7 linked regions of the Homo sapiens genome follow. The protein of the gene in region 1 interacts with the protein of each later gene in a biochemical or structural test. Each region holds a gene or a part of one and is shown in the gene's direction. Other genes may lie near its edges.

Evidence for each region.
Region 2: the proteins of GRIP1 (region 1) and TBC1D10A interact in a test that uses a peptide from one of them, tested with the Homo sapiens proteins (one large-scale study listed by IntAct).
Region 3: the proteins of GRIP1 (region 1) and PDZD2 interact in a test that uses a peptide from one of them, tested with the Homo sapiens proteins (one large-scale study listed by IntAct).
Region 4: the proteins of GRIP1 (region 1) and SMCHD1 interact in a test that uses a peptide from one of them, tested with the Homo sapiens proteins (one large-scale study listed by IntAct).
Region 5: the proteins of GRIP1 (region 1) and EZH1 interact in a test that uses a peptide from one of them, tested with the Homo sapiens proteins (one large-scale study listed by IntAct).
Region 6: the proteins of GRIP1 (region 1) and BPIFA2 interact in a test that uses a peptide from one of them, tested with the Homo sapiens proteins (one large-scale study listed by IntAct).
Region 7: the proteins of GRIP1 (region 1) and AGMAT interact in a test that uses a peptide from one of them, tested with the Homo sapiens proteins (one large-scale study listed by IntAct).

The regions. Positions count from the first base shown.
Region 1 is NC_000012.12:66,672,553-66,676,686, reverse strand, and holds part of GRIP1 (glutamate receptor-interacting protein 1), read left to right. Parts: intron 1-4,134. UniProt on the Homo sapiens protein: May play a role as a localized scaffold for the assembly of a multiprotein signaling complex and as mediator of the trafficking of its binding partners at specific subcellular location in neurons.
Region 2 is NC_000022.11:30,298,808-30,302,941, reverse strand, and holds part of TBC1D10A (TBC1 domain family member 10A), read left to right. Parts: intron 1-3,390; coding exon 3,391-3,498; intron 3,499-4,134.
Region 3 is NC_000005.10:32,082,811-32,086,944, forward strand, and holds part of PDZD2 (PDZ domain-containing protein 2), read left to right. Parts: intron 1-4,134.
Region 4 is NC_000018.10:2,693,275-2,697,408, forward strand, and holds part of SMCHD1 (structural maintenance of chromosomes flexible hinge domain-containing protein 1), read left to right. Parts: intron 1-1,252; coding exon 1,253-1,419; intron 1,420-3,757; coding exon 3,758-3,848; intron 3,849-4,134. UniProt on the Homo sapiens protein: Non-canonical member of the structural maintenance of chromosomes (SMC) protein family that plays a key role in epigenetic silencing by regulating chromatin architecture.
Region 5 is NC_000017.11:42,734,651-42,738,784, reverse strand, and holds part of EZH1 (histone-lysine N-methyltransferase EZH1), read left to right. Parts: intron 1-4,134.
Region 6 is NC_000020.11:33,166,394-33,171,290, forward strand, and holds the start of BPIFA2 (BPI fold-containing family A member 2 precursor), read left to right. Parts: upstream 1-1,765; 5' UTR 1,766-1,816; intron 1,817-2,737; 5' UTR 2,738-2,752; coding exon 2,753-2,909; intron 2,910-4,897. UniProt on the Homo sapiens protein: Has strong antibacterial activity against P.aeruginosa.
Region 7 is NC_000001.11:15,574,606-15,578,739, reverse strand, and holds part of AGMAT (guanidino acid hydrolase, mitochondrial precursor), read left to right. Parts: intron 1-875; coding exon 876-1,055; intron 1,056-3,898; coding exon 3,899-3,983; intron 3,984-4,134. UniProt on the Homo sapiens protein: Hydrolyzes linear guanidino acids to form urea and the corresponding amines. Displays specificity for substrates having a negatively charged head group and short chains including taurocyamine, guanidino propanoic and butanoic acids.

The DNA.
Region 1 (4,134 bases):
CCTCACCCTCAACTCCCAAACATACATATTTCTTTATACCCATTGAGGGCTCCACCTAACACTCACTCTTCCAGACATTTAGCACAAGGCATTACACTTAGTAGGCACTTCAAAACTGTTTGTTAAAATGAATTGGATTTGTCTAGTTGAAAGTAGTAGGGCATTTAAATCTTCTGTGAGCTCTTAGGAAATGCTTCAAGAGCTTTATTAGGCCTCTTGTGGCTAAAACCTTACCCAGATCTTAGCAGGGGGAAGTTTGCTTCATGACTCCAAAACTACCTTGCTATTTGTGGTTGATATCACCCACAAGAAAAAGCAATATGGCAATTGCAATTTCTTCTTAATTTTCTTAAGGAGAAAATGATGGAATAAAAGGGAAACAATTTTCTACAAACACCCACATTCTTGATATTTTTACTTGATTCTTACATTCTTCATATATCTAATACATACTTAACAAATATCGATTAAGTACCTACTATGTGCCAGACACTGACATTTTTGCACTTAGAATTCTGGGCTGGGACAATTTATAGGTGTAAAAAGCATTTTTAAAATGAATATATTATTGAACAATAAATATTTTTTCTTTAGGTCAGATGTAATTTTAAAAGATGTATAAAACATGTATTTCTAGACAAGTCCTTGGATCACTCCACATAGACACTGATCCACAGTATTATAGTAGAATATATTTCAGGTAAACTTAGCACTTCTCTGACTTGGGAATTGAGTCATTTTCTTATTAATGTTTCAAGCCACTGTTTCAATCATTTTGCCTTATCAGGTACCTACCAATGTAGAACAAGAGCAAGAAAATAACCTTTACCCAAAAGGCCCATGCCTGCCATTATGAGAGGAACTTTGGTTCATGAAAACACCAAGCACCGTCAAAAGCATTCCGTTTCCCATCTAATATTGAAATCTAAAGAAGCAATGCCGTTCTTTTCTTCCTCCAGAATGAGAGTCTACCAATTACCCAACCTTAGAGCCAAATCCCAAAATAACATTTTGTGAGGTTTCCAGAGACATCTGACAAAAGGGTTTTCTGGAGTGGGTAAATCTAGGCTTCTTGGCACCTACCTTCACAGCTGTTTACCTGGGACAGCCCTGGTTTCTCAGCTAGGGGCTACCATACCTCAGGGGAAGGGAGTATGTTCTCAGAGAAGGGGAGATATTTTCATGGCTCCCACAGACTTTGTTCTTTTTCTCTTGTCATGATTGTGTGATTACTTTTCCTTGAGACAGTTTGGCCTCATATGCAGAGAATCACTTTCTCTGGTGATATGGGATGTGACTCTGCTGCTTGCTCAGGTGCTGCCATTTTGAGCTCCGAGATCTGAACTTTCGTGCTCCACTGGCAATGGCATTTTTCTTTCACAAGCTTCACTCTGCCTACCAATGCCAACATCAGCCAATTAATATTTACTGACATTCCACAGGGAGCACGGCTCTGGGCACCTTTCATTGTTTTGCTGCCACCCACCCTCTCTCTCTGTCTTTTCTCTACTGGCTCAAAGCTCATGTCGGAAACCTTTGCCTTCACTTTAGTATAGACTTCAACATTTTTCATCATAGCTGGCCTACGTGTCATTTTATTTTCTACTTATCTTCACTTTCTCTCTCTTCCCAAATACACATATGGCCTAAAATAGAATTAACTCTCCCTGTCCCTTTCCCACTAACAAACTATAAGCAGCCCCGTTGACCTTCATCCCAATGGGGTGTCTAAGTGAGACATCTGTGGCTGGCAGGGAACTGCTCCCTGCTGTGCATTCTACTTTCTTTCTCTCTCCCTCTCTTCTTCCTGATTTCTCCTCCCAACCTCAGTATCTTTTCTCCTTTTCTGCTGTCTGGGCATGTATGGGTATTGCTCTCTCCACTGGCACTGAGCAAGATTAAAAGGCTGGGTTGTGATCACACTCACTCTCATTTTTTCAGTCATTGTTCCTTACACTTACCCCAATCATGGAATCATTATGCTTGAAAGGGAAGGTCAGACATTCGTCTAGGACTTGTTTCCAGAGAGAACTGAAACTCAACCATCTCAGACAACCAGTAATCTTATTCTCAATTCTCTCTGACAAGAACAATCTCACAGTTTGTCTGATAAACTTTTAATGGATTACTCAGGTGACGTCTAAATCCCTTTAAACTCTGACACTCATCCTGTGTTTAAAAGTTCTTCTATTTAGAAACTCATTTCCTAAGTGTAATCTTAATTAAAGAAACACATTTAAATGTTTTGTCTTAATGGAAGAGGAAAAATATTTCCCATCTTTTCTCATCTGCAGAATCTTTTAATCCAAGGAATTCTGAATCCATCACAGAGTTCAGTATCAGTGTTCCAAACCTGATGGCTCCTTTGCTGGTGGCCTTGGATTTTCTGTTCTGGTCACTTTGCTCTTTCCCATCTGTCTGTGTCTAGCCTTGTGGTTCCTTCAGCAGTCTTCTCTAATGATTCCTCATCCACTCTGTGATATGATTCAGAACTGATCATCATCTGGGTTGAGAATGCTCTCTCTCTCTGTGCTGGACCTCATTTCTCCTGTCTCCCCATCCTCATCCATTCTGCTAACCCTCGCTGGCCTTCTCTGTCAGATCCTGCCATCTGGAACAACTTAACTGTATCCTCCACCTCGTTAACTTTCCACCCCTTTCCAAATCTCACCTGCAACCATGTCCTTTCTGCTTTGCCTCCACCCCTTCATTTCATGCCATCAAAGCTAGTGCATTTAACGTATTTATCTTTCTAGCCTATCAACTTTTTAAAATAATATGCACTTAATAGATATTTCACAAAGTAAGTCTGTCTTGTTTTATTGGAGTTTCATCTATTGCTAGGGCATGGGGCATATTTCTCTTGCAAATAGAGAGACCCCACTTGAACAGGAGAATGCTGCAGCTGGGTCCCAGGCAGGTCTTGTTCTCGCGCAAGTGCTGCTCGTGGTCCAGATTGTGATGGATTTCTTGCTGTGCTTCTAGCCCATGCTTTGAGGGAGTTTACATTGAACAGTGGCTTGGACCGCTTTACTCTCCACTGGACTGAAGCTTTTCGTTTATATAACTAGTTAGAATTATCATAATGGCGCATTTATTTCTCCCCTGTCTTCCAAATGGGAATTGGATGCTAGAAATACTTTACCTCGTTCCAGGAGGTACCCATCCTCCAGAGGAAATTTTGGCTATGCCTTGTATGACCCCATATAAACAAGAAGGAGTCTACACCCTTCTTATATGATTGTAGCAGGTTAGGAAGAAATATCTGGTTCATTACTGGGAAAAGGAGGGCCAATGTAGGATAGGCATTCTAATCGATTAACTTATATACTTTTGGGAAATGTTTAGGAGGAAGAATGGAAATAAGGATAGCTAACATTTATTGAGCACTTACTTTCTGCCAGGTACTATTCTAAACATTTTACATGTACTAACTCATTTAAATCTTGCAATATTATCGTCATTATCCCCACCATACAGATGAAAAAGAAGAGGTTCAGAGAAGTTAAGAATCATTCCTAAGATCACAAGTGGAGGACAGGAGGAACCCCAGTGTTTCATTTTTGCCATTTTTTTTCTCTTCTAGAAACGGATAGAAACCATAGACCTGCCTATCTAGAATAATAAAGAGAAATTAATCAAGACAACACCACACTAATCTCTCAGCATTCCTTATGGTAGGGGAAATAGAATAGACTTAGAAATTAGAAGATATGTCAACCTTTCCTAGCTTTCCTATTTTTACTTGTGTGGCAAAAACAAACAAACAAAAAAACTGAATTTCCCCCACTAAATTTCAGTTTCTTAATCTGTAAATTAAAAATTACTTGTGAAAACTGTTTTATACTCATGTTAGCTATAACAAAATGATTTAATTTTCTACTACAGTTGATTTATTTGAAATTCTTATATTAGTAAATTCACTTTATTCTGGCGGAAAATATATAATTTGATAACTTCCCACTATTTGAGAGGAGGCAAAATACATAGTTTCTAGGGATAGGCAAGCCGTCAGTGTTTGAAACTCATCTTTTTCTCTCTTTTAGTTTCTTACCACTTTTTTGCCCATATACATGAGAATTATGTTAAATTTAAAATTAGTAACTGCTGCTTTATTAAATATACAGAAGAAAA
Region 2 (4,134 bases), on another chromosome or scaffold:
ACTCTGGCTCTGTTTCCCTGCCTCATCATTCCTCTGGCTCTTACTGTGAGCTGTAGCTTGCTCTCCAGCAATCTGTTATGGTGACTGGTGGTTGGCAGGGACCTTCCGTGTTCTTGAAAATCGGGATTCCAGAGGGGAGCTTCGGGGAGCACCTCTCAGCAGAGTAGCAGCTGACACTTCCCCTTTTCTTTCCTGGCACTGTGGTTAGAGCCCAAGACCTGCCCCTGCCCAGCTGAGGCCTCCAGAGGAAGTGCTTCAATCCACCGTGCCCAGAGGCCCTAACTCACTGCTTCTCTCCAGCCCAGAACCATCCACTGGGTGCCCCTCGTGCCATCTCAGCTGTGGCCATACTGGGCCCTGCCCTCGGGGCTCTTCCTGCCTGTGGAGGCTTGAGTTCTCCCTCTGGTCAGGAAGTCGTGGCACAGGAAGTATAATACCTGTTTCAGGAAGTGGGCTCAGACCCAACACTTCTCCTGGACTCATACATAGTCCTGCTGGGAGGGTGCCTTCCTTTCCGGAGACTCCCAGCCATGTCTAGGACAGAATTCTGGTCCTGCAGGGAGGCAGGGCTGGGGCTGGAATGCTGTCTTCCCGCAGGGCCCTGCCCTCACAGAGTTCAGCAGGCAAGGGTGTGTCCTCACTCAGCTTTCATCAGAGACCTCCTTTCCCAAGGCCTGGCCTCAGAGAATGGTAATCCTCTGTGGTTTCTGGGAATACTTTCCCATGCTTTATCCTTACTGGTCCCTACCATCCTCCCTAAGGCAGGCAGGGTAGAGATGACCCCCTCCAGCACCTTTATGCTGAGGAGGCCAGAGTGGGAAAGGCTGGCTGTACTCCCAGCTCTTTGCTGCCCGCGAAGTGTTCCAGGGCTCTCCTGGAGAAGGCCAAATATGATGGGGGCTGTGATGATGTGGGGCTGCCTCTTGCTGAGCTTAGCTCTGTGGGAGAGCCTGAAGGGCCTGTGGCTTTGGGCTAAAGCACATCCCTTTGCCAAAGCCTGCCCAAGTTGGCTTCCTTAAGGAGACCCTTGTCCCATAGCCGCAGGAAACTCTTCCTTGCGTCTAGTGCAGTTCCCTTCAGCCCCCTTCCTCTGCCTCCTTTCTAGGCAGTCCCAGAAGCTCTCACTTGGCACCTGTGACCAGCCACTGCTACTCTTCCCCCACCACCCTCAGCCTGTTTGCCTGGCTCCTTCCTGGTTCTTGACTCTCTCTGACCCTTGGAAAGTTTTCTCTTGTTTGCACTGGTCCCCAGGAAGGCCAGGGCTTCTGTACTCCCTCCTCTGAGAGCTTCCAGCAGGACTGTTGAAGGGGGTTTCTAGGTGAGGGGAAGTTAGGTGTGAGCTGAGGTCCTGGGCTTCTGTGTCAAGCATCCTCCTGGGATGGAGGGGCAGAGAGGAAGCCATTGCTTACTGAACACAGACTGTGTCAGGCCCCACACTAAGCACATTTTCCCTCTCTAATGGACTCCTTTGACAACTCTGCACAGTAGTAGGTATTATTCAGATCTTACAGTTGAGAAGTGGTTGGCTTAAGGTCAGCGCTAGATTCAAACCCACATCCAGATGTTCTTCTCATGCCCCGAGCGCCCATCCCCTTTATCCCAGGTCAGGCTGCTTAGTGCAGGGGTTGAGGGAGTATCATTGGCCATCTCACCCCTCCCCCACCACAGCATTTCACAGGAGTGATGCCTCTGCCTTTGTCCTTGCCCACCTTGACGGGTCAGGGCAACTGCCTTCAGAGCCTCATTCTGGTCCCAAGCCCAGGAGGAGCCCACTGGTGATGTAGAAAGTACACGGGGCTGGGTCCCTCCAGCCTGTGCGGTGCAGCTAGGAGGTAGTAGGGTTTCTGATTGTATGACAAATTTACCCCCACTCTGCTTGTGTGATGAAATTTCCCCCACGAATTTTCCCCTACCCTCAATGCCCCATTTGTAAAAGACATGATCGTTTTGATAGTTTTTCAAATTGAGTTTTGCCAGTGAAAACTTTTCCTGATAAAAACAGCTAGCCGGAATTGAGCACTAGCTCTGGGTCATGAGCTGCCTCAAATACTTCCTCCCTCACTTCTCCCATTCTACGAGTGGCAGAGAAGACCTGGGCCATTTTAGCAAGGGCTGAGATCAGGACTCACACTCAGGCCAGCTGCCTATGCCCCAGGCTGGTGATGTTGGGAGCTCAGGGTCAACGAGAGGAGAGTGGGGATTCTTGACCAAAACAAAGAGGGAGCCATTTGAGCAGCTCCCATCTTCCTTCAGAGTTCTGCTGAGATTTCTCCCCTCTAGGCTGGCGGTATCCTGCCACATGGCTGCTGAAACCAACATACCTGCGTGAAAGTGCCCAGGCCACACCTCTGGGCACATTCTGGTTCATCTCATGAGCTACCTTCCCTGTGGCTGCAGCTGAGCCGCACACAGTGCAATGCCCTCCCTGGTGACAGACTATGGGGTTCACCCAACTTGTAATGGTTCCTTTTCCTTTTTTTTTTTTTTTTTCCTGAAACAGAGTCTCGGTCTGTCGCCCCGGCTGGAGTGCAGTGGCACGATCTTAGCTTACTGCAACCTCCACCTCCTGGGTTCAAGCGATTCTCGTGCCTCAGCCTCCCAAGTAGCTAGGATTACAGGCGCCCACCACCATGCCTGGCTAATTTTTTGTATTTTTAGTAGAGACGGGGTTTCACCATGTTGGCCAGGCTGGTCTCGAACTCCTGACCTTAAGTGATCTGCCCTTCTCGGCTCCCCAGAGTGCTGGGATTACAGGTGTGAGCCAGCGTGCCCGCCTATAGGGTTCCATTTTGATTCAGAAGATAGTTATGAGGGTCTGGAATTCCATGGCAAACCTCAGGAATGCCTGTGTTGTCACCAGGGATGTGGGACCCTGCCATCACCTGGTGTTAGCATATCTAATTGCAGGCACCTCCTCTCCCCGCACCATAGGATTGGCATGGTAGCAACAGTAGGAAAAGTCCTTTTTTTTTTTTTGAGACAGAGTTTTGCTCTTGTCACCCGGCTGGAGGGCAATGGCACGATCTTGGCTCACTGCAACTCTGCTTCCCGGGTTCAAATGATTCTCCTGCCTTAGCCTCCCGAGTCGCTAGGATTACAGGCGCCCGCCACCACACCCAGCTAATTTTTGTATTTTTAGTAGACACGGGGTTTCACCATGTTGGCCAGGCTGGTCTCAAACTCCTGAACTCAGGTGATCCACCCGCCTCGGCCTCCCAAAGTGCTGGGATTACAGGCGTGAGCCACCTTGCCCGGCGAAAGTCCTCTTTTCTCCCTGTTTCTGCTCTTGCTGCTGTGTGCACTGAGGGCCCACCACGCATTGGCAGAGGGGCTGGGCTAGGGGAGCTGCCTGGGTGGCTGCATGGGCTCAGCTGTCCTTTTGATTTTCAGATTCGTCTGCGGTGCCAAAAGGGCATCCCGCCTTCTCTGCGGGGCCGTGCTTGGCAGTACCTGTCAGGAGGCAAGGTGAAGTTACAGCAGAACCCTGGAAAGTTTGACGTAAGTTTCCCTTCCTTTGCCCTGCCCTCCCTTCCGCATCTCTTGGCGTCCTCCCCATGGCGGCAATCCTCCATGTGCTCACCTGAACCTCACAGGATGAGCAGTCCATGAAACCTCCAGTCATGTGCCCAACTGCCCAGGCCCCAGCAGGCCAGACCGGCCCAGTCCTGGGTACCTGTGTCTCCTGGAGGGTCTGTACAACTGAGGCTCCAGCCCTGAGCAGCCCTCAGTGGAATGGCCAGATTTGGTACCCCCTATTCCAGCTCTTTCTCTTGATGACCACTCAGGTTTTGCTTTCCTGGGCTCAGTAGGCTACCTCCCTGCTCTTGGTCATCAGGAGGGGACACTCAGACCATTTCCCTGACTGCCTTGGGCCCTGTGCCCTGGGCCTATGGGGGCTTGACTAGCAGGACCACAGGTCCTTCAGTGTCTCCCGGCCTCCCATCCTCTACTTTCTCCTGCCTTGTCCAAGCCTGGCCAGCACAGCCCACCTGTGTGTCTTGTGGGGTCATCAGCCCTAGGAGTAGCAGAGCCAAACCCAAGGGGGCTGAAGGGAACTGCCCAAGTAGCTCAAGGGGTCAGACGCCAGTCAGTGGCCAGAGAGGGTGCCCTCTGTTGTTATCCCTCCTCCTGTCC
Region 3 (4,134 bases), on another chromosome or scaffold:
TTGATTGTGAGGTCTGATTTTAGAGCCATTTAGCTTTCTGGCAGCAATTGACTCTGTCTGTTAAATGGTGGCTCTTGGAAACCAGAACGAGAGGAGGTGGTAGCTGTTGGAAAAGCTGTCAAAGCTGTTGTGAGAAACTGAAGCAGTGTGGGGAATCCAGGCCCCCTGTTTGTCACTAAATGTTTAACTCTGTTATGAACGGGATACATGTTTATTCTAGAAACTTAAGAAATTACAATTGAGAGGGAAGTTTTGAAAGATAGCATAAAAATCAGCTAAGCCCAAGTGAAAAACCTCTGTTAATATTTTGGTCTGTATCATTTGAGTCTTGTGCGTATATGGGTGTGAATAAATATATAGTCCTGTGCTTTTTTTGTCTTTTTGCCAAAAAAAAAAAAAAAATCCACTGTGGTAGTCACCAGTACCTAACAACCTTTTTAAACCTCATACATCCACACGAAATAATATTTGAGCAGCCTGCTGGCATCAGTAAGACTGCTCCTCAGCCCATGGGCCTGACCTAGCAGGCTGTCCCTCGCACTGACCACTCTGCTGTCAGCACACCCATAGCCTACTCTAGGAAACCGCACTGCTATCCTGCAGGCTCTTCTACACCCGACATCACCTGGAGAGGCTGCTGGGCCTTCCACCCCACGGATGTGCTGTAACGAGTCAACCTTCCTCCCATGATTGGGCATTTCGAACGTTTCCAGAGAAAAGGTTGTCTTGAAAGGTGACAACCAAAGGCTGCCTCAGTGTAACCTCGTCTCCCTCAGATGAAGACCTTTTAAGTTACAGACTTTGCAATAAAGTCAAATTGCTAACATGAATTGCCTGTTTAGGTTTATTCAGTGAGCGAATATGAAATTTGTTTATTTTTGAGACGGATTCTTGCTCTGTCGCTCAGGCTGGATGGAGTACAGTGGCTCGATCTCGGCTCACTGCAACCTCCGCCTCCCAGGTTCAGGCAGTTCTCCTGCCTCAGCCTCCCAAGCAGCTGGGATTACAGACGTGCACCACCACACCTGGCTAATTTTTGTATTTTTAGTAGAGATGGGATTTCCCCATGTTGGCCAGGCTGGTTTCGAACTCCTGACCTCAAGTGATCTGCCTGGCCTCAGCATCCCAAAGTGCTGGGATTACAGGCATGAGCCACCGCCCACGGCCTGAATATGAAATTTAAAAACAGAGTTTAAATCCCCTCCTTTTGTGTCATTGCTACTCCCCACCACCACCCGCACTACCGCCCATATTTGCTGTCACCAGAAGCAGGAACATTATGCTTAAGGGGAAGTTCAAAAAAGGTTGAGCAGAGAAGGAGAAGAGCACGTGGCTTTGAGTCTTGGCAGGCCCCTGGCCTTCCACAGTGGGCCTGGAAAGCTAGTAGCTAGTACGGTCTCCATGGGGATCTCGACGATCCAACCTTTTGATTGCCAAGGGCTCTCCACACAGAGGCCACATAGTCAGGGTTTAGGCAGTAGCATGGGCTGTGGAGCCAGCTTCCTGGGGCGACCGCTGGCTCTGCCACCTGTGAACTCTGACCTCAGACACATTGCTTAACCACGCTGTTTCTCCGTCCTCATCCTTCCAATGCAGATGGTCACAGGACATACCTCAGTGTTAGGAGGAAAATTAAATGTGTACAAAACTCTTAGCACAGTGTTAACTCCTTAATTATTGGAAAACCTCTTAGCACAGGGCTGAGTCCTAATAATTAGTTCTTAATTATTCACATAGCAAGGTCAGCAGGTTAAAAAAATGCAATTAAGATGATTTTATGTGAGAGCTGTGGAACGAACATAATATTTGGGGAAGAGTTGGTTTGACTTAATTCTCAAACCAAGAGCTTTCATGGAACTTCATTTTTCACTCCAACCTCAGACCCATAGTTCCTAAGAAAATAGCTTTGTTCTTTCTGATGCCAGATTTTTTTTCCCTGTTGCAAGATGCTGTGTGTCTGAGGTGGAAGATTAGCCCAAGACTATGCAGGGCCTTATGAACAGGCACTTTCAGGAGTGAGTGGCTGTTGGAACCCACCTCCTAGATGACTTCCCACTGTCCACTGGCACACATCCCCTTGCCCTGCCACCTCCAAGATTTCAGGCTCTTTCTTGCTTCTCTGCTTTCATTCTGTTGCCTTTTTTTTTTTTTTTTTTTTTTTTTTGAGACAGAGTCTTGCTCTGTTGCCCAGGCTTGAAGGCAGTGGTGCAATCTCAGCTCACTGACCTCTACCTCCTGGGTTCAAGCGAATCTCGTGCCTCAGCCTCCCAAGTAGCTGGGATTACAGGTGCATGCCACCATGCCTGGTTAATTTTTGTATTTTTCGTAGAGATAGGGTTTCACCATGTTGGCCAAGCTGGTCTCAAACTCCTGACAAGTGATCCACCTGCCTTGGCCTCCCAAAGTGCTGGGATTACAGGCGTGATCCACCGTGCCCAGCTGCCTTTTTTTTTTTTTAATTGACACATAATTGTACATACTTATGGAGCACAAAGTGGTACTTCAGTACATATATACATTGTGCAATGATTAAATCAGGGTAATTAGCATATCCATCACATCAAATGTATCATGTCTTTGTGGTAGGAACATCCCAAATTCTCTCTTCTAGCTATTTCAATAAATGCAATACCTTATTATTATTTTTTTTTTTTGAGACGGAGTCTTGCTCTGTTACTCAGGCTGGAATACAATGGCATGATCTTGGCTCACTGCAACTCCACCTCCCAGGTTCAAGCGATTCTCCTGCCTCAGCCTCACAAGTAGCTGGGATTACAGGCGTGTGCCACCACACTCAGCTAATTTTTGTATTTTTAGTAGAGACGGGAATTTCACCATGTTGGCCAGGCTGGTCTCGAACTCTTGACCTCAGGTGATCCACCCGCCTTGGCCTCCCAAAGTGCTGGGATTACAGGCGTGAGCCACCATGCCCAGCCCTGTTTTTGTTGTGTTGTTGTTGTTTTGTTTTGTCTTTTGTTTTTTTTACACTCAAACTGCCTTGGCTATTCAGAGTCCTTTGTGGTTCCATGCACATTTTACAACTGTTTTTTTTTTTTCTATTTCTGTAAAAAATGTCATTGGAATTTTGGTAGGAATTGTACCGAATCTATAGATGACTTTGGGTAGTATGGACATTTTAACGGTACTCTTCCATTGTCTTCCTTACCTTCCTCCTCCTCACTCTCTGGCCAAACTCCCCTTGTCAGCCCCATTCATGTCCCCACCTCCTCTGTCAAGTCTTCCTGGGATAATCTGGCTTCTCACTCTCCCACTCCTCTGAATTCGTCAAGACAGCCAGAGCTCGGTGTAGACCTGTATCCCAGCTTTCGTATTCTGTATGTTTTCCCTAGTTAGCCTCAGCCCCTGCACTAAAAAGGAAGCCTCTTGAGCTCGGCACTTGGACTGTTTTACACTGAAGTACATCATTCACATCCCCCAGTGTGAGCCAAACCCACACACCACTGGCCAGATACTGGGACTGAGAGGTCCATGAGGGCCCTGCTGCATCCACGCAGGAGTAGGGAACCAAATAGAACAAGAGCCTGACGCTTGCGGCTTTGCCATCAGAGGGTGAATGGCATAAAGAGACCCAAGTGTGCAATGATTAAATCAGGGTAATCAGCATATCCATCACATCAAATGTATCATTTCTTTGTGGTAGGAACATCTGCCATCATAGAAATACCAAAAGAGAGAAAAATGGGCAGATGTAAATGTTTCTTCTGCCGGCTAATCTGAGTTCTCTTAGAGCGTCTAAAGCAGGGTGGTATTTGTTAGATGTGGGTACTCTATAATTTTAGAGAGAAAACCAGGAAGACAAGAAGGGCCTCCATTTAGGCCACAGAACGCCGTTTTGTTGTTGTTGTTGTTGTTGTTGTTTTCTGAGACGGAGTTTCGCTCTTTTTGCCCAGGCTGCAGTGCAATGGCACATTCTCGGCTCACTGCAACCTCCACCTCCCAGGTTCAAGCAATTCTCCTGCCTCAGCCTCCCAAGTAGCTGGGATTACAGGTGCCCACCCCCATGCCCAGCTAATTTTTTTTTTTTTTTTTTTTTTTTTAGTAGAGATGGGGTTTCACCATGTTGGCCAGGCTGGTCTCGAACTCCTGACCTCAGGTGATCCACCCGCCTCCGCC
Region 4 (4,134 bases), on another chromosome or scaffold:
ACTTAAGGACAGGGATGCATTCTGAGAAATGTGTCATTAGGTTATTTTGTTGCTATGTGAACATCATAGAGTGTACTTATACAAACTTAGATGGCATAGCCTGCTACACACCTAGGCTATATGGTATAGGGTACTGCTCCTAGTCTACAAATTTGTACAGCTTGTTACCCCAGGCAGTTGTAACAGAATGGTAAATATTTGTGTAGCTAAACATAGAAAAGGTACACTAATTTTACAATACTGTATCATCTTATGGGACCACTGCAGTCAATTGTTGACAAAAATGTTATGTGACATATGACTGTATATGAATACACACACAAACGCGCATGCGTGCATACCATGTTTTTTGTTTGTTTGTTTGTTTGTTTGTTTGTTTTTTGAGACATGCTTGTTGCCCAGGCTGGAGTGCAGTGGCGCGATCTTGGCTCACTGCAACCTCAGCCTCCCGGGCTCAAGCGATTCTCCTGCCTCAGCCTCCCTAGTAGCTGGGTTTATAGGCGTGTACCACCACGCCTGGCTACTTTTGTATTTTAAGTAGAGATGGGGTTTCGGCTTGTTGGCCAGGCTGATCTTAAACTCCTGACCTCAGGTGATCTGCCCGCCTCAACCTCCCAAAGTGCTGGGATTACGGGAGTGAGCTACCACGCCCGGCCTGCAATTTTTTAAAACATAGATTCATACTACAGATGGAGAAGTTTGTAATTTTATCCTCAAATTCCCCTACTAACTCCCTTCCATAAGTTTTAGATATTCTCTGAAAGTGGGTTGGTGTCCAGGATGATTTTACTTTTAAGCACTATGTGTTTGGGCTTAGCTAGCTGGGTCCAGCCTGCCCTGTAGTTTTCTTGAACATGGAGGGCTGGGCATTGGTCCTGACCAAGTTAAGTGGTAGGTCTCCCAAGCAAGCGTTCATTCTACCCTAGGGGTAAGTGTCCTCAATTTTTTAAGGCATTTTAAAACTCAGTATTTGTCTTTACCTTTTCGTTTATGATTCTAAAATCGGTTTAGCATTATAAGATAGGGTGCTCTTTATGCATGCTAGTTTAGCAGTCTGTGTGAAAGTTCCCTTGTCTTCACAGTGTTGTCACATACTCAGCCAGTTTGTTGTATTGGGCCAGTTTCCTCCAAAGCTTTTCTGAAACCTATTTGTGAAACTCCAAGTAAATCACATTAAAATTTGATGCAATAGCTATTTGTATAATTATAATTTAGATGATTTAATCTGTTGTATTTCTGTTCACTCTTGTAGCCCTCTGATTCTGTTCACATTACAAATGATGATGAAAGATTTCTACATCATCTTATCATAGAGGAGAAGGAAAAAGATAGCTTTACTGCTGTGGTTATCACAGGGGTACAACCAGAACACATACAGTACTTGAAAAATTATTTCCACCTTTGGACACGACAGTTAGCGTAAGTAATTATATTTGGCTTAGGAAATGTTGCTACTTAACTTTTTTAAGGCAGAAAACATTACAGATATATTGAAGCCTCTTTGGTATCCGTTTTGCTCCTGTCTCATTTTCTTCCCTTTAGTATTATCCAGTACTCTGATATTGGTGTTAAAACAGCTCTCTATTCATTTATTCTGTAAATATTTATAGATCACCTCTAGTGTACTGAGCATTATTTGAGGCACAGGATTTTGACAATATTATAAAATTAAAAAAGAACTTCACAGTTTGTCAGATTGAGCACTATATCACTTCCATGACCCCGTTTTGTGCTTCTTTTCCATAGGACCTGTCGTAATCTTCCATACCATATATATTTATTTTTGTTGTTAAATTCACTGCTGTATCTCCAATGTCTTCTAGAAGAATACTTGCTACATGGTAGATGCTCAAATGTTTATCAAGTGAATGAATGCATCAAGCCTATTAAAATAAAAAATATACGTACATATGTGCCTATATGACATTAGTACTGAAAATAATCATTGTGTTTTTATTCCAGTAACACTTGTAGGGACTCTATATTCCATTAGACCAAATCAGAGGAATAGTTATTTAATGGCTCTAAAAAAAAATTTTTTTTTTTTTTTTTGAGACGGAGTTTCACTCTTGTTGCCCAGGCTGGAGTGCAATGGCGCACTCTTGGCTCACTGCAACCACCACCTCCTGGGTTCAAGTGATTCTCCTGCCTCAGCCTCCCGAGTAGCTGGGATTACAGGCGCGTGCCACCACACTCAACTAATTTTTGTATTTTTAGTAGAGACAGGTTTTTGCCGTGTTGGCCAGGCTGGTCTTGAACTCCTGACCTCAGGTGATCCACCCACCTCAGCCTCCCAAAGTACTGGGATTACAGGCGTGAGCCATCGCGCCCGGCCTAAAATTTTTTTTTTATAGCTATGTGATACATACGATTTACTGTATTGTTTCCCTAATTTGCATTAGTATGAATTACTGAGACTTGCAAAATGGGTACATCTGCTCAAAATTCATATTTTAAAAATGTATCTTTTTACATTTACCCAAAAGGCTATTGTTCTTGAGAGTCTCAATTTTATACGTAATTATACGCTAAGAGAATTTTAAAATTTTTTTATGGGAAAATAAATTTGGTTTTAGGAATACCTTTTTTCTTGTTGAAGTTGTTTATTATCCCTGTTACCCAAGGTATTTAAGTAGGACTTTGCAGTTTTCTTCAAGTACATATTTTATTAGCTATTTTATAGTTTATTGAAGGAACTCAGTGTACATTAACACATAATTTAAATATACTCTTGCTCTAATGAAGGATTATGAAGAAATATTGCAAATTTCTATTTCACGAATAAAGACGTGGTATTTTATAATCCTGAACAATGTTACCAAAATATAATCTTTTTTAACCTTTTCTGAAAAAATAAAGAGGTGTTATTTCCAAAATGTTGGTTTTCAGTGAGATGGTGTCAAACTTACTAGTTTTGTTTTTGGAATCTTAGGGTAAGATTGTCTCAGTGCTATAGGAGAGGAGAGATGAATGTTCTAGAACAGGGGTCCCCAACGCCCCGGTCGTGAACTGGTACCCATCTGTGGCCTTTTAGGAACCCGGCCCCACAGTGAGTGGTGGGCCCGAGTGAGCATTACCACCTGGCTCCGCCTCCTGTCAGATCACTGGCAGCACTAGATTTCTCATAGGAGCACGAACCCTAATGTGAACTGTGCATGTGAGATATTGCGTGCTCCTTATGAGACTCTAGTGCTTGTCGATCTGAGGTGGAACATTTTCATCCCAAATCACCCCCCTTCAACTCCCATCTCTGGAAAAATTGTCTTCCATGAAACTGGTTTTGGTGCCAAAAAGGTTGGGGACTGCTGTTCTGGAATGGTATTCTCTTATTGAGATTAGATACCTAATCCAGTTTACCACCGATAATTGAGTCCTTTCTGGAACGTACCTGGTAAGTAGAATTATAGACTCTTGCTGTCTAGTTTATATTTATTTGATGAATTATTCCTCTTGGAAGTGGTGTATGTGGTCTTTGAAGTTGGAAAGGTCTGGGTTGAAGCCCACGGCTCCCTAACTCTATTCTGTGATGTCAGATAACTTACATACACTTCTTGCACCCCAGGTTCTATATCTGTAAAATGAGATGCAGTAATACCTGCATCTCAATTGTTTTTACCATTAAATGGAATATGTATTTTAAAATGCTTAATAAAGTGCTTGATACCTAGTAAATAGTGTTAAAATATTTTGATAGAAGATTACATTAACTATAATTTTATGTGAATTAAAAGTATAAAATTATTCTTCTCTATTTTAGGCATATTTATCACTACTATATTCATGGCCCAAAAGGAAATGAAATACGAACATCAAAAGAAGTTGAACCTTTCAACAATATTGATATTGAAGTAAGAGAAAAATCCATCTTAAAATAATAAAAATTATGAGATATTTGTTCCAGTTCCAAATGACTCAGGATAATAAAAAACACTTGATAATTAGACAACTTCTCTCTCCTTGTTTTTTACCAAACTACTTTCATTGTTTGATATCCAACTAAAGAGATTATTCCTAGATGTATTTTTCTCAAACCTTTATTTACTGTAGGCTTGGTTTATCTTTTTTTGTCTCTCTTCTGTGGAGCTATGCATTGTTACTGAACATCAATCATCTCTTGAAGCATGGAGGAAAAGG
Region 5 (4,134 bases), on another chromosome or scaffold:
CCTTCTCAAAAAAAAAAAAAAAAAAAAAATCTAGGCCAGGCCCGGTGGCTTACGCCTGTAATCCCAGCACTTTGGGAGGCCAAGGTGGGTGAATTACCTGAGGTTAGGAGTTCCAGACCAGCCTGGCCAAGATGGTGAAACCCTGTCTCTACTAAAAATACAAAAATTAGCTGGGGCAGAGGTTGCAGTGAGCTGTTATTGCACCAACGCACTCCAGCCTGGCAACAGAGTGAGACTCCATCTCAAAAAAAAATAAAAAAAATAGACTGGGCACGGTGGCTCACGTCTGTAATCCCAGCAGAGCGAGATTCCGTCTCAAAAAATAATAATAAATACAAATAATAAATACAAATAAATAAAATTAAAAAATAAAAATCTGTAGTGCCATCTGCCTCCAAAGGCTTACTTAGCCTTGCTGGTTAATAAAATTATTATTCAAGAGAAACTATCAAAGACACTGAATTTGCCCCTAAGACAAAGAAGCTGTTTCTGCAAAGGGACACCTTATGTAGATGAAAAAATTTAATAGTTTGGAACTTTTGTATTCTGATCTCAGTCTCTCTAAGTTTAAGAACTTGTTCCTTAAATTTTTTTTTTTTTTTTTTTTTTGAGACAGAGTCTTGCTCTGTCGCCCAGGCTGGAGTTCAGTGGCACCGTCTCGGCTCACTGCAAGCTCCGCCTCCTGGGTTCACGCCATTCTCCTGCCTCAGCCTCCTGAGTAGCTGGGACTACAGGTGCCCGCCACCATGCCCAGCTAATTTTTTGTATTTTTAGTAGAGACGGGGTTTCACTGTGTTACCCAGGATGGTCTTGATCTCCTGACCTCGTGATCCGCCTGTCTCGGCCTCCCAAAGTGCTGTGATTGCAGGCGTGAGCCACCGCACCCAGCCGTTCCTTAAATTTTTTATTGCCATACAATTTCAGTAATGTTTTCCCATTTCCACCTAGTGACAGACTACATTCTAGTTTTAGCCTTTGCAGCAAATTGAGATCCAGTTTTCTGGGGAAAGATTGCTACATTTTTATAGCTTTCTTTTCCTGTAGAGATGTGACAGTAAATAAAGTGGTTCGTATTTCCAATGATTAATCTTTTTAAAAAATAAACTCTATTTTTTAGAATAGTTTGTTTTTTAAGAAAGAAAAAAAAGAAAGAATAGTTTGTTTGTTTTTGGTTTGTTTGAAACAGGGTCTCACTCTGTCACCCAGGCTGGAGTGCAATGGCGCAGTCACAGCTTGCTCCTGCAGCCTTGATCGTGCAGGCTCCATCTGTCTTCTCACCTCAGCCTCCCTGGTAGCTGGGACTAGAAGCACACGCCACCATGCCCAACTAATTTTTGTATTTCTTTTGTAGAGATGGGATCTCACCATGTTGTCCAGGCTGGTCTCGAACAACTGGGCCCAAGAGATCCACCTGCCTCAGCCTCCAAAAGTGTTGGAATTTCAGGCATGAGCCATCACGCCTGCCCTAGAATAGTTTTAGATTTATTTTAAAAATTGTAGGCTGGGCGCGGTGGCTCACGCCTGTAATCCCAGCACTTTGGGAGGCCAAGGCGGGTGGATCACCTGAGGTCAGGAGTTCAAGACGAGCCTAGGCAACATGGTGAAACTCTGTCTCTACTAAAAATACAAAAATTAGCTCGGCGCGGTGGCATGTGCCTGTAATCCCAGCTACTTAAGAGGCTGAGGCAGGAGAATCGCTTGAGCCCAGAAGGTGGAGGTTGCAGTGAGCCGAGATTGCATCATTACACTCCAGCCTGGGCGACAGAGCGAGACTCTGTCTCAAAAAAAAAAAAAAATTGTAAAGCTAGTACAGGGAGTTCCTGTTCTGCAACTGGCCAGCAGAACATCTTAAGTGGAATCATATGCAGTTATTTGCGTCTTATTTTTTTCACTTAGTATGGTGGTTTCATTTTATTATTACTATTATTATTAATGAGGCAGAGTCTCGCTCTGTTCCCCAGGCTGGAGTGCAGTGGCGCATTCTCAGATCACTGCAATCTCTACCTCCCTGCAATCTCTGCCCTGCTAGGTTCAAGCGATTCTCCTGCCTCAGCCTCCAAGCAGCTGAGACTACAAGTGCACACCACCATGCCCAGCTAATTTTTGTATTTTTGTAGAGATGAGGTTTCACCATGTTGGCCAGGCTGGTCTCGAACTCCTGATCTCAAGTGATCTGCCTGCCTCAGCCTCCCAAAGTGCTGGGATTACAGGCGTGAGCCACTGCACTCAACCAGCATAGTCTTTTAATGGTCTTGAGATGTGGTGTGAATGTATAGAAACTATTCATGGCTTTTTGTTGCTGAATAGTATTCCATTGTGTGTGTATATATCTATACACACTACATTTTGTATCCATTAGCCAATCCATTGATATGTGTGTTGTTTTCACTTTTGGCTATTATAAATAAATATGAACATTTGGGTACAGATCTTTGTGGAGACATAGGTTTTCAATTCTCTTGGATAAATAATTAGAAATTGTATGCCAGGTTCTGTGGTAAGTATATATTCAGCTTTATTTTTGAAAAACTGGCAAACTGCCTTCCACAGTGGCTATATCACTTTGCATTCCTACCAGCAGTGTATGAGGATTCCAGTTGCTTCACGTCCTCACCAACAAGTTGTATTATCAGTCTTTTTTCATTTTAGCCATGGTAGTGGTGTTTAATAGTATCTCATTGTATTTTTCATCTGCATTTCCCTAATGACTAATGATATGGAGCAACCTTTTGTGTGCTCATTTGCCATTCCTGTATCTTTTCTGGTGACATAGCTGTTCAAATTTCTGCTCTTTTTTTTTTTGAGACGGAGTCTCGCTGTCTCCCAGGTTGGAGTGCAGTGGCACGATTTTGGCCCACTGCAACCTCTGCCTCCTGGGTTTAAGCAATTCTCCTGCCTCAGCTTCCTGAGTAGCTGAGATTGCAGGCAGACGCCACCACGCCTGGCTAATTTTGTATTTTTAGTAGAGATGGGGTTTCACAATGTTGGTCAGGCTGGTCTCGAACTCCTGACCTTGTGATCCACCCGCCTTGACCTCCCAAAGTGCTGGGATTACAGGCATGAGCCACCACATCCAGCCTTCTGCTCACTTTTTATTGGTGATTTGTCTTATTATTGAGCTATAGGACTTGCTTATATAAATATTTTTTAATTTCTTGATCAAAACAGCATATGTTTTGGAGTTTATCTTCAATGTGTAGATGAACATAATGAAAGGCTGTTAAGTACTAGCTAAGTACCTAACTGGAATATAAGTGCTGTTTTGCATGTGTAAGTAACTAAATAATAGATCTGGTAGAAATATAAAGTATTTTTTTGTGTGCCACTCCCTTTGCCCAACACCAATGAATCCATCTCTCCAAATCTGCCTGTTCTAGTGAATGCTAAGTTTTTTATTTGTTCCCTTTTTTTTTTTTAACTTTGATATGATAATTGTTGGTTAGGGTCCAGCTGTGGTGAAAACTCATCTTATGGCTGAGTTTCAGGTGTGTGCCAACATGGCCTGCTAAATTTTGTATTTTTAGTAGAGTCAGGGTTTCACCATGTTGGCCAGGCTGGTCTCGAGCTCCTGGCCTCAAGTGATCCACCCGCCTCAGCCTCCCAAAGTGTTGGGATGACAGGCATGAGCCACCACAGCCAGCCAGACACGACAGCATCTGTAGATTATGTTCTATTCCATTACTTAATACTTCTTTTTTCTTTTCTTTCCCTCCCTGCCTTTCTGTTTCCTTCCCTCCCTCCCGCCCTCCTTCCTTTCTTCCTTTCTTTTCTTTTCTTTCCTCTTCTTTTTTTGAGACCGAGTCTCACTCTGTCACCCAGGCTGGAGTGCAGTGGCGCGATCTCAGCTCACTGCAACCTCTGCCTCCCAGGTTCAAGCGATTCTCCTGCCTCAGCCTCCGAAGTAGCTGGGATTACAGGCACCCACCACCACACCCGGCTAATTTTTGTGTTTTTAGTAGAGATGTGTTTCACTATGTTGGCCAGGCTGGTTTCGAACTCCTGACCTCAGGTGATCCGCCCACCTTGGCCTCCCAAAGTACTGGGATTACAGGTGTGAGCCACTGCGCCCAGCCCTTCCTTCCTTCTTTCTTTCTTTCTTTACTTTTTTTTTTTTTTTTGACAAGGCCTCACTCT
Region 6 (4,897 bases), on another chromosome or scaffold:
AAGCCGGGACCATATGCGCACATATTCATCAGCATCTTCTTCGCCATCTTTGCTGTTGCCGTGCATCATGGGCCTACCCTATGCTAAGCCTTCATGGGTATTACACTAATTTGACCTCACAGCATGCCCTTGAGGTGAGCACTGTTCTTAGTCCCATTTCACAGATAAAGAGCCTGAGGCTCAGCAAGGTGCGGTCTCTGGCCCAGGTCACATGGCCAGCAACCAGCAGAGAGAGAGTATTCATGCCCAGGACAGCCCAAGCCCAGTGCCAGGCTCTGAGCACTGCCCTCAAAGCCCCTCACCATCGTTTTGATTTCCTAGGTCCTTGCCTGTCCACCATGCCTCTGAGATCCAGGAACAGCGTGTTTACCCATTTTACAGATGAGGCAACTGAGGCCTGGGCCAACACCAGGTCTCGAGGTCACTGCATCATGCTCAGCACCCTGGGCTATGTTCCTGGGCTGGGACAAACTGCCTTCACAAGATTTCAGCACAGCCCTTGGCTCTGTGCTTCACAACTGGGGGAAGAGCGGGGCTCAGACGTTTGGAGAACCCGGTGTCAGGCAGCCAGGGAAGGAGGTGTGACAACCATTCAAGACCACAGGCAAGACTGCAGCAGGGGTCTAATGGTCTGGGCTCTTGGGGCCTGGCCATCACCTTCCTGCAGCCGCCCAGCTCTGTGCTGTAACAGTGGAGCCATGGTCAGTGTAGGAACAGCCAGCTCCTGGAGCCACTGGTCTTGTCCCACCGTTTGCTTGGTTGCATCATTTTGAGGACAGGCCCCCCAGGTCCTTGCTGAATTGCAGGTGGGTGAGCAGAAGGGCAGAGACCTATGGTGACCCTGAGCTCTGTGCCAGTCCTTCCCAGCCTGAGGCCAAGTGGGCACCCACCCGAGTTTCCTGTGCTGTTCCGGGTTGACACAGGCCCAATGCAGCAGGCGTTACAACCAACCCAAACATCAGTGGCCGAAGCAAAAACAGGATACTCAGGCCCAGGGACTCTCCCTCTCTGCTAACTGACCTCAGCCTGATATGGGTGGAAGGGTCTTCCCTGGTGGCCCAAATGCCTGGTTCCTGTCCTTGCAAGTATGGACAAGCCACCTCCCTCTCTGAACTTCAGCTTTCTCAACTGGAAAATGGAGCTCTGAAAACCTGCCTTACAGAGTTTTCATAAAGACTAACAGAAAAGTGCATCTAAAGTGCCCTTTAGGGACACCAAGCCCAGTGTCAGCACAAGCAGCTGCCAGGCATCTGCTGCACCTGCCGGGTGCAGACCCCTGGGGGCAGGACCCCTGGGAGGCTGTCTGACTCCTTGTGGGCCACAATTCTAGACCCATCTCGGTCCCTGTCTTGCTGAATGACCCCAGGCTGGTGGCTTCCCCTCTCTGAGCCTCAGTTTCCAAATGATGACGGAGTTAGACCGGATGGTCATTATGGGTCCTCCTGCCAGGACATTCTCCAATTCATTCATTCTCAGTCTTCTCCCAGTCCTCACCCACAAGGACCAAGGACCACCCCCTCGGTAGCTGCAGGCTCCATGAGGACCTGGTCTTAGTCTTGGCGGAAAGCCCTCTCCATAGCCATCCGTTTCAATTCAAGCATCCTGGGTGACCTTTGAGTTGGAAATCTCTCTCTCTGCTCATCCTGGAGAGGGGTTATTTTCCTTGGAGTGTCCTTGGATGATCCCAGAACCAAGGCTTGCTTCTGTGGGCAGCCTTCCATCCCATCTCCACCATATAATAGCCGCCACCATTCAGCAGAATCCCAGCAGACTGTGCAGTGGGGCAAGGATTTCATGAGCATCCTCCTCTAAACGCGTGAGTGGCGTGCTCCCCCCAGTGGCACCACACGTGGTGGTCTTTGGAAGGCTTTGGGGGCAAGAGGCAGAGGGGTGGGATTGCTTGGGTTAGCTAATATTTTGAATACAGCAGAGATAATCAATATATCTCTAAATGTGCTCTAAATGGCAAGTTCGTGATGAGTACTCACTAAAGATTCCATTTCCCTCTGGGCAATTCTTACTCCTGTTCTTCCCATGACTGTCCAGGTGTCAAGACAAATGGCAAATCAGAGTAAATTTAGAGATCTATAGATTATATTAAAATAAGTGTCAAACTAATGAACAATGCAGGGTCATGAGGTGGTCTCCATTGATTTGTTCATACTTATATTCAACAAAGATTTATTCGTTTACTGTACTGTACTAGGTGCAGGCTTTTTACTGGCGCCTGAGGATTCGACAGTGAAATAAGTCACAGTCCTTCCTCTAAGGAGTTCACAGCCTGGTAGGAAAGGTGGTCAAATCATCAGGGAAGTGTTATCCAAGACCTTGATCAGGATAATGAAGGCAGCAAGGTGGGACTCCTCCAACCTAGAATCTGGGAAGGGGCCTACAGTAGGCTTCACAGAGGGCATGATGTAGGAATTGACCTAAGTGGAAAAGTAAAGAAGAAGAAAAATATTTTAGGCAGAGAAGACAGCGTATGAAAAGGAACTTTGTGTCAAGAGTATGGGCTTGGAGTCAAGTCTGACTTTTCAAATCCCAGCTCCTCTGCTCACTGACTGTGTGTCTCCGGGCAAGTTGCTGTAGCTTTCTGACCTTGGCTGCCCATTTGTAAAATAGGAAATAACCACATCTATCTTAATGGAATGCTAAATGTTAAGAGTGATGGGAACTCACTGAAGAGTCCATTTCCCTCTGGGCAATTCTCACTCCTGTTCTTCCCATGACTGTCCAGGTGTCAAGACAAAAGATGCTTCAGCTTTGGAAACTTGTTCTCCTGTGCGGCGTGCTCACTGGGACCTCAGAGTCTCTTCTTGACAATCTTGGCAATGACCTAAGCAATGTCGTGGATAAGCTGGAACCTGTTCTTCACGAGGGACTTGAGACAGTTGACAATACTCTTAAAGGTAAATCAACAAGGGTGATGAACAGTGTCACCTAAATTAGCCTCCTAAACACTATGCCTGCATTACCAGAGGCTGCCACCAGGGGCTACTCTTTATGGGCGGTTTACTGAGAAAAGTGGCTATTCAATTCCTGACTCATTCGTTTATCTTTCTAGAAACAAGCAATGCCACAATGAATAGCCTTTTACATATTATATCCTGATAAACGTGCATAAGATAAATTCCTACAAGTGGGATTTCAAAAGTTCAAAAACTATGCTGTTGACAAATAATCTCCTATGTTAACACTTTCTCCAACAGTCTACGAAAGTGCCTTTTTTCCCACTCCTTTTCCAGCACTGGGTATGGACAACTTTAAATATTCTGCCTGTCTCACAGATGAAAAGCTATAACTTATTTCACTTTGCATTCCTCTAATTATGAAGGAGCCCTCTTCTTTTTTCATATATTTACTATGTACTTACATATTTTAACTTGAGGATTTTGTCTATATTCTTAGCATATTTTTCTTTTGGGTTGTTTAATATTCTTTTATGGACTTGTGTTAATTCAGTGAAAATTAAGGAAATTATCCCTACCTAGCCTTGGTATCTGTAAAGCTACCTACCTTTATATTTATTTATACCTCCTTTTTATGCTAACCTATTAAAATAACTTGGCTTTCTTTTTGTTTTATGGAAACATTAGCAGCACATCAAAAACAGTTTTTGTAGGAGGAGGTAACTTCTGCAAATGGCTGCCTTTCAAACCTTGTCAAGGGCTTAGGTAACTTTCAAAGATGCAGAAAGGACTCACACTCTAATTTCACAGCTGAGAAAACTGAGGCCCAGAGACAGAAATGTCTAAACCAAAGTCACCTCGTGAATTATACGATTAGACGTAGTTATATCACCAATTTTATTTAAAGTGTCATTCTCTGAATCATTATAACTAGGTAGATATTGTCCATTACAGAGCCAAGTTACAATATTATGATTACATCTCTTTTCTTATACGGTATAGTCTTTTGTTTTTCCTTAAGTTAGTAATTGCCCTGTTGTTTCTCACTTGAATTATTTTCTTCTCATATATACTTAATTATTTTCATGAGCATCATCCTGTATCTATCATGACATTTATTATTTTTTGAGACAAGGTCTCACTCTGTCACCCAAGCTAGAGTACACTGCCAGCCTCAACCTCCTGGGCTCAACTGATCCTCTCACCTCAGCCTCCCCAGTAGCCGGGACTACAGGTGCACACCACCACACCTGGCTAAGTTTTACATTTTTTGTAGCGGTGGAGTCTCACCATTTTGCCCAGGCTGGTCTCGAACTCCCGGCCTCAAGTGATCCTCCTGCCTTGGCCTCCCGAAGTACTGGGATTACAGGCGTGAGCCACCACACCCAGTCACGACATTTATTCCCATCCCCCTGTTCTCCAGAGACCTATCATAAAGACACTTTGTCCTCCTCCTCCTATAAGAATTATTGCTTTCTTTTGGTGCAACTGCTTTTGGTGTCATGAAGTCTTTGCCCGTGCCTATGTCCTGAATGGTATTGCCCAGGTTTTTTATGGTTTTGGGTTTTACATTTAAGTATTTAAACCATCTTGAGTTAAGTTTTTAATAAGGTGTAAGGAAGGGATCCAGTTCCAGTTTTCTGCATACATCTAGCCAGTTTTCCCAGCACCATTTATTAAATACAGAATCCTTTCCCCACTGCTTGTTTTTGTCAGGTTTGTTGAAGATCAGATGGTTGTAGACATGTGGTGTTATTTCTGAAGTTTCTGTTCTGTTCCATTGGTCTATATGTCTGTTTTGGTACCAGTACCATGCTGTTTTGCTTACTGTATCCTTGTAGTATAGTTTGAAGCCAGGTAGCATGATGTCTCCAGCTTTGTTCTTTTTGCTTAGGATTGTCTTGCTATATGTGCTCTTTTTTTGGTTCCATATGAAATTTAAAGTAGTTTTTTTTTCTAATTCTGTGAAGAAAGTCAATGGTAGTTTG
Region 7 (4,134 bases), on another chromosome or scaffold:
AGGCTGAGTTTGCATCATCAGGGGCATAAGGAGCATAGGAGTGAGGAAGTTGGTTTATGGGCCATGGGAAGTCTATCGCTGGGCGGGGGAGACAAGCAGAAATCGACCAACCCCTCGGACGGTGCTGGCTTAGAAGAGGGGAGGAGGCCGGGCACAGTGGCTCACACCTGTAATCCCAGCACTTTGGGAGGCTAAGGTGGGTGGATCACCTGAGGTCAGGAGTTCGAGACCAGCCTGGCCAACATGGTGAAACCCCGTCTCTCCTAAAAATACAAAAATTAGCCAGGTGTGGCGGTGCGCACCTGTAATCCCAGCTACTCGGGAGACTGAGGCAGGAGAATTGCTTGAACGTGGGAGGTGGAGGTTGCAGTGAGCTGAGATCGCGCCACTGCACTCTAGCCTAGGTGACAAAGTGAGACTCCATCTCAAAAGAAAAAAAAAAGAGGGGAGGAAGTCCGGACCCAAGATGAGTTGCCACCTTCTTAGTTCTGGTCCTCGTACCCTCTAGGCAGAATGGCTCTCAGATAGACGTGTATGACAAGACCCCAATGGAACAGACCCAAATCCCTTGCTTTTAGAGCGTGCCAAGGCCAGTCTTCTGGACAGAGCAATTCAAAAGGTGCTAGCGTGAGCTGCTGTTTCCCACTCTTGCTTTAGCAAAGCTTCTCTCTGATTCCAACTCCATCAGTCAGCTTTGACCCTGCTTCCTTACCACTCATTGTCCCTCCCTTCCTCACCTGTAAAATAGGATAGTTCCCTCTTCATGGAGATGGAGGGTCAAGTGTCATGTGCACACAGAGCTGAGCATGGGGCTGGCAAACAGGAAATGCCCTGTAAATGCTGCCAGACAGAAACCTCAGTCCCTGTCTCTGCAGGGCTTCCGGGTAGTCCTGGCTGAAGACTGCTGGATGAAGTCGCTGGTTCCTCTGATGGGGGAAGTCAGGCAGCAGATGGGAGGCAAACCCATTTATATCAGCTTTGATATTGACGCTCTGGATCCTGCCTATGCGCCAGGGACAGGGACACCTGAAATTGCTGGTCTCACTCCTAGTCAGGTAAGGAGATTCCACCAGTGAAGATCCTGGGGGTGGAGACACTTAACACCCATTTTCCTGGGACTTGAAGCGAATCTTTAGGAATCAGGATAGGATTTTTGTTTGTTTGTTTGAGACGGAGTCTCACTCTGTCGCCCAGGCTGGAGTGCAGTGGTGCGATCTCGGCTCACTGCAACCTCCGCCTCCCAGGTTCAAGCGATTCTCCTGCCTCAGCCTCCTGAGTAGCTGAGATTACAGGCACATGCCACTACGCCCGGCTAATTTTTGTATTTTTAGTAGAGATGGGGTTTCACCATGTTGGTCAGGCTGGTCTTGAACTCCTGATCTCGTGATCCACTCACCTCGGCTTCCCAAAGTGCTGGGATTACGGGTGTCAGCCACCGCGCCTGGCTGCCAAGGTAGGATTTTAAGAGCAGAGCACCTAGGCCTTTTCTGTTCTCTGGGCTGAGGATAAGTTTGAATACCCTCTTACTGAAGGGTGATTGATTTTGGCAAGGGCCTTCATTTCCTATCTGGGATATAATAGTCCCTTATTTTGTCCTTTATTTGCTCTTCCTGCCTTCAGTTCATCTGTCATGAAAACAACAGTTCATAGGAACAACATTATAGTATCCTCTCTTAAGAACACTAAACTTGGCCGGGCACGGTGGCTCACGTCTATAATCCCAGCACTTTGGGAGGCTGAGGTGGGTGGATCACGAGGTCAGGAGATCGAGACCATCTTGGCTAACACGGTGAAACTCCGTCTCTACTAAAAATACAAAAAAATTAGCCGGGCGCGGTGGCGGGTGCCTGTAATCTCAGCTACTCAGGAGGCTGAGGCAGGAGAATGGCATGAACCCGGGAGGCAGAGCTTGCAGTGAGCCGAGATAGAACCACTGCAGTCTGGCCTGGGCGAAAGAGTGAAACTCCATCTCAAAAAAAAAAAAAAAAAAAAAAAAAAAGAACACTAAACTTGGCCAGGTGTCGTGGCTCACGCCTGGAATCCCAGCACTCTGGGAGGCCGAGGCGGGTGGATCACAAGGTCAGGAGTTCGAGACCAGCCTAGCCAAGATGGTGAAACCCTGTCTCTACTAAAAGTACAAAAATCAGCCCGGCACGGTGGCAGGCGTCTGTAATCCCAGCTACTTGGGAGGCTGAGGCAGGAGAATTGCTTGAACCCTGGAGGCGGAGGTTGCAGTGAGCTGAGATCGTGCCACTGTACTCCAGCCTGGGCAACAGAGCAAGACTCCACCTCAAAAAAAAAACCAACCAACCAACCAAACAAAAACACTAAACTTGGCCGGGCGCAGTGGCTCACACCTGTAATCCCAGCACTTTGGGAGGCCAAGGCATCAGGCGGGTGGTTCACCTGAGGTAGGGAGTTTGAGACCAGCCTAACATGGAGAAACCCCATTTCTACTAAAAATACAAAATTAGCCGGGCATGGTGGCGCATGCCTGTAATCCCAGCTACTCGGGAGGCTGAGGCAGGGGAATCACTTGAACCTGGGAGGCTGAGGTTGTGGTGAGCCGAGATCATGATATTGCACTCCAGTCTGGGCAACAAGAGTGAAACTCCATCTCAAAACAAACAAAAACACTAAACTTATCTTTTTAGGGTTAAATTTAAATAAAAGTGCATACAACGGGCCAGGCGCGGTGGCTCAGGCACTATCCTCAGCACTTTGGGAGGCCAGGGTGGATGGATCGTTTGAGCCCAGGAGTTTCAGCCCAGCCTGGGCAACATAGTGAGATCCCATCTTTACTAAAAATAAAAATAAAAATTAGTCTGGTGTGCTAGTGTGCACCTGTAGTCCCAGCTACTAGGGAGGCTGGGGCAGGAGGATCAACTGAGCCTGGCAGGTCAAGCCTTCAGTGAGCCGTGATCATACCACTGCACTATAGCCCGGGTGACAGAGACCCTGTCTCAAAAATAAATAAATAAATAAATAAATAAATAAATAAATAAATAAAAGTGCATGTGATGGCACAATTACCTGCCAAGGTAAGCTCAAGAGTTTTAGAAACACCCAAATAAAGCTCCAATAATGTGTGCTGGGAGTAAATGCACGGGGGCAGAATGGTTATGACTAGAATCTCCCCAAGGGCAGGACCTATGTATTGTTCCCTACCTTGTCCTTGGAGCCTAGGACAGTGCCTAATACAAATAGTAGGCACTCAAAGACATTTGAGAGTAAATGAATGAAGACTGCTTAAACCTAATCAAGTACCTTACATCCTCTAAGATCTTAAAGGAGGGTGGCCATAACTCTCTCTCTTGAAATGGCTGTAACCATCCTCTCTTCTCATGAGGGATTTCTGAAACACATTCCTCATCCCTCTGCTTAGCAACCTTCTGGGCTTTTCACCTGCAGGATGGGAACCCTTTCAGACAAGGTCACTCTCTTCCCATCAGTCTCCCTCACTTACTCTGTCTTCTGGCCACATCTTACTACCTGAACTTTTCCCATCTTGGTGCCTTTGCCTGTGTTTTTCCCTCTGCCTGGCCTATCCCTTGAACTGGGTATTTCCACCTTGGGGAAGCCTTACCCACCTCTCCAGGCTATTACCTATGCTGATACCATTCTGGGCTTGCTTTCCTTGAAGCCCTTGGTGCATGACATTGAAACGATTGGTTTCCTTGTCTCCATCACCACACCATGCAGCCCTGAGGAGCAGGGACTGTGTACGCATTATCTGTTTCTCTGGGAGGCCTGCCAGTGTGCCTGGCAGTCAACAAATGTTTATGGAGGGAAAGCCAATTCCAAGTCAAAGGGTGGCGTGGGCTGGGAAAAGCTCTACTGGGTGCTTTTCACTGTAAATGATTACCACTGTGGACAACTCAGTCTTGATCTTGAATAGGCTCTGGAGATCATCAGGGGTTGTCAAGGCCTGAACGTGATGGGCTGTGATCTTGTCGAAGTTTCACCACCGTATGATCTTTCTGGTGAGTAAGCAAAGAGACTGAGATCCATGGGCAGCCGGTAGCTTAAATTACACGAAGCTAGTTAATAAGTAGAAAATGGGGCCAGGCATGGTGGCCCAAGCCTGTAATCCCAGCACTTTGGGAGGCCAAGGTGGGCAGCTCACCTGAGGTC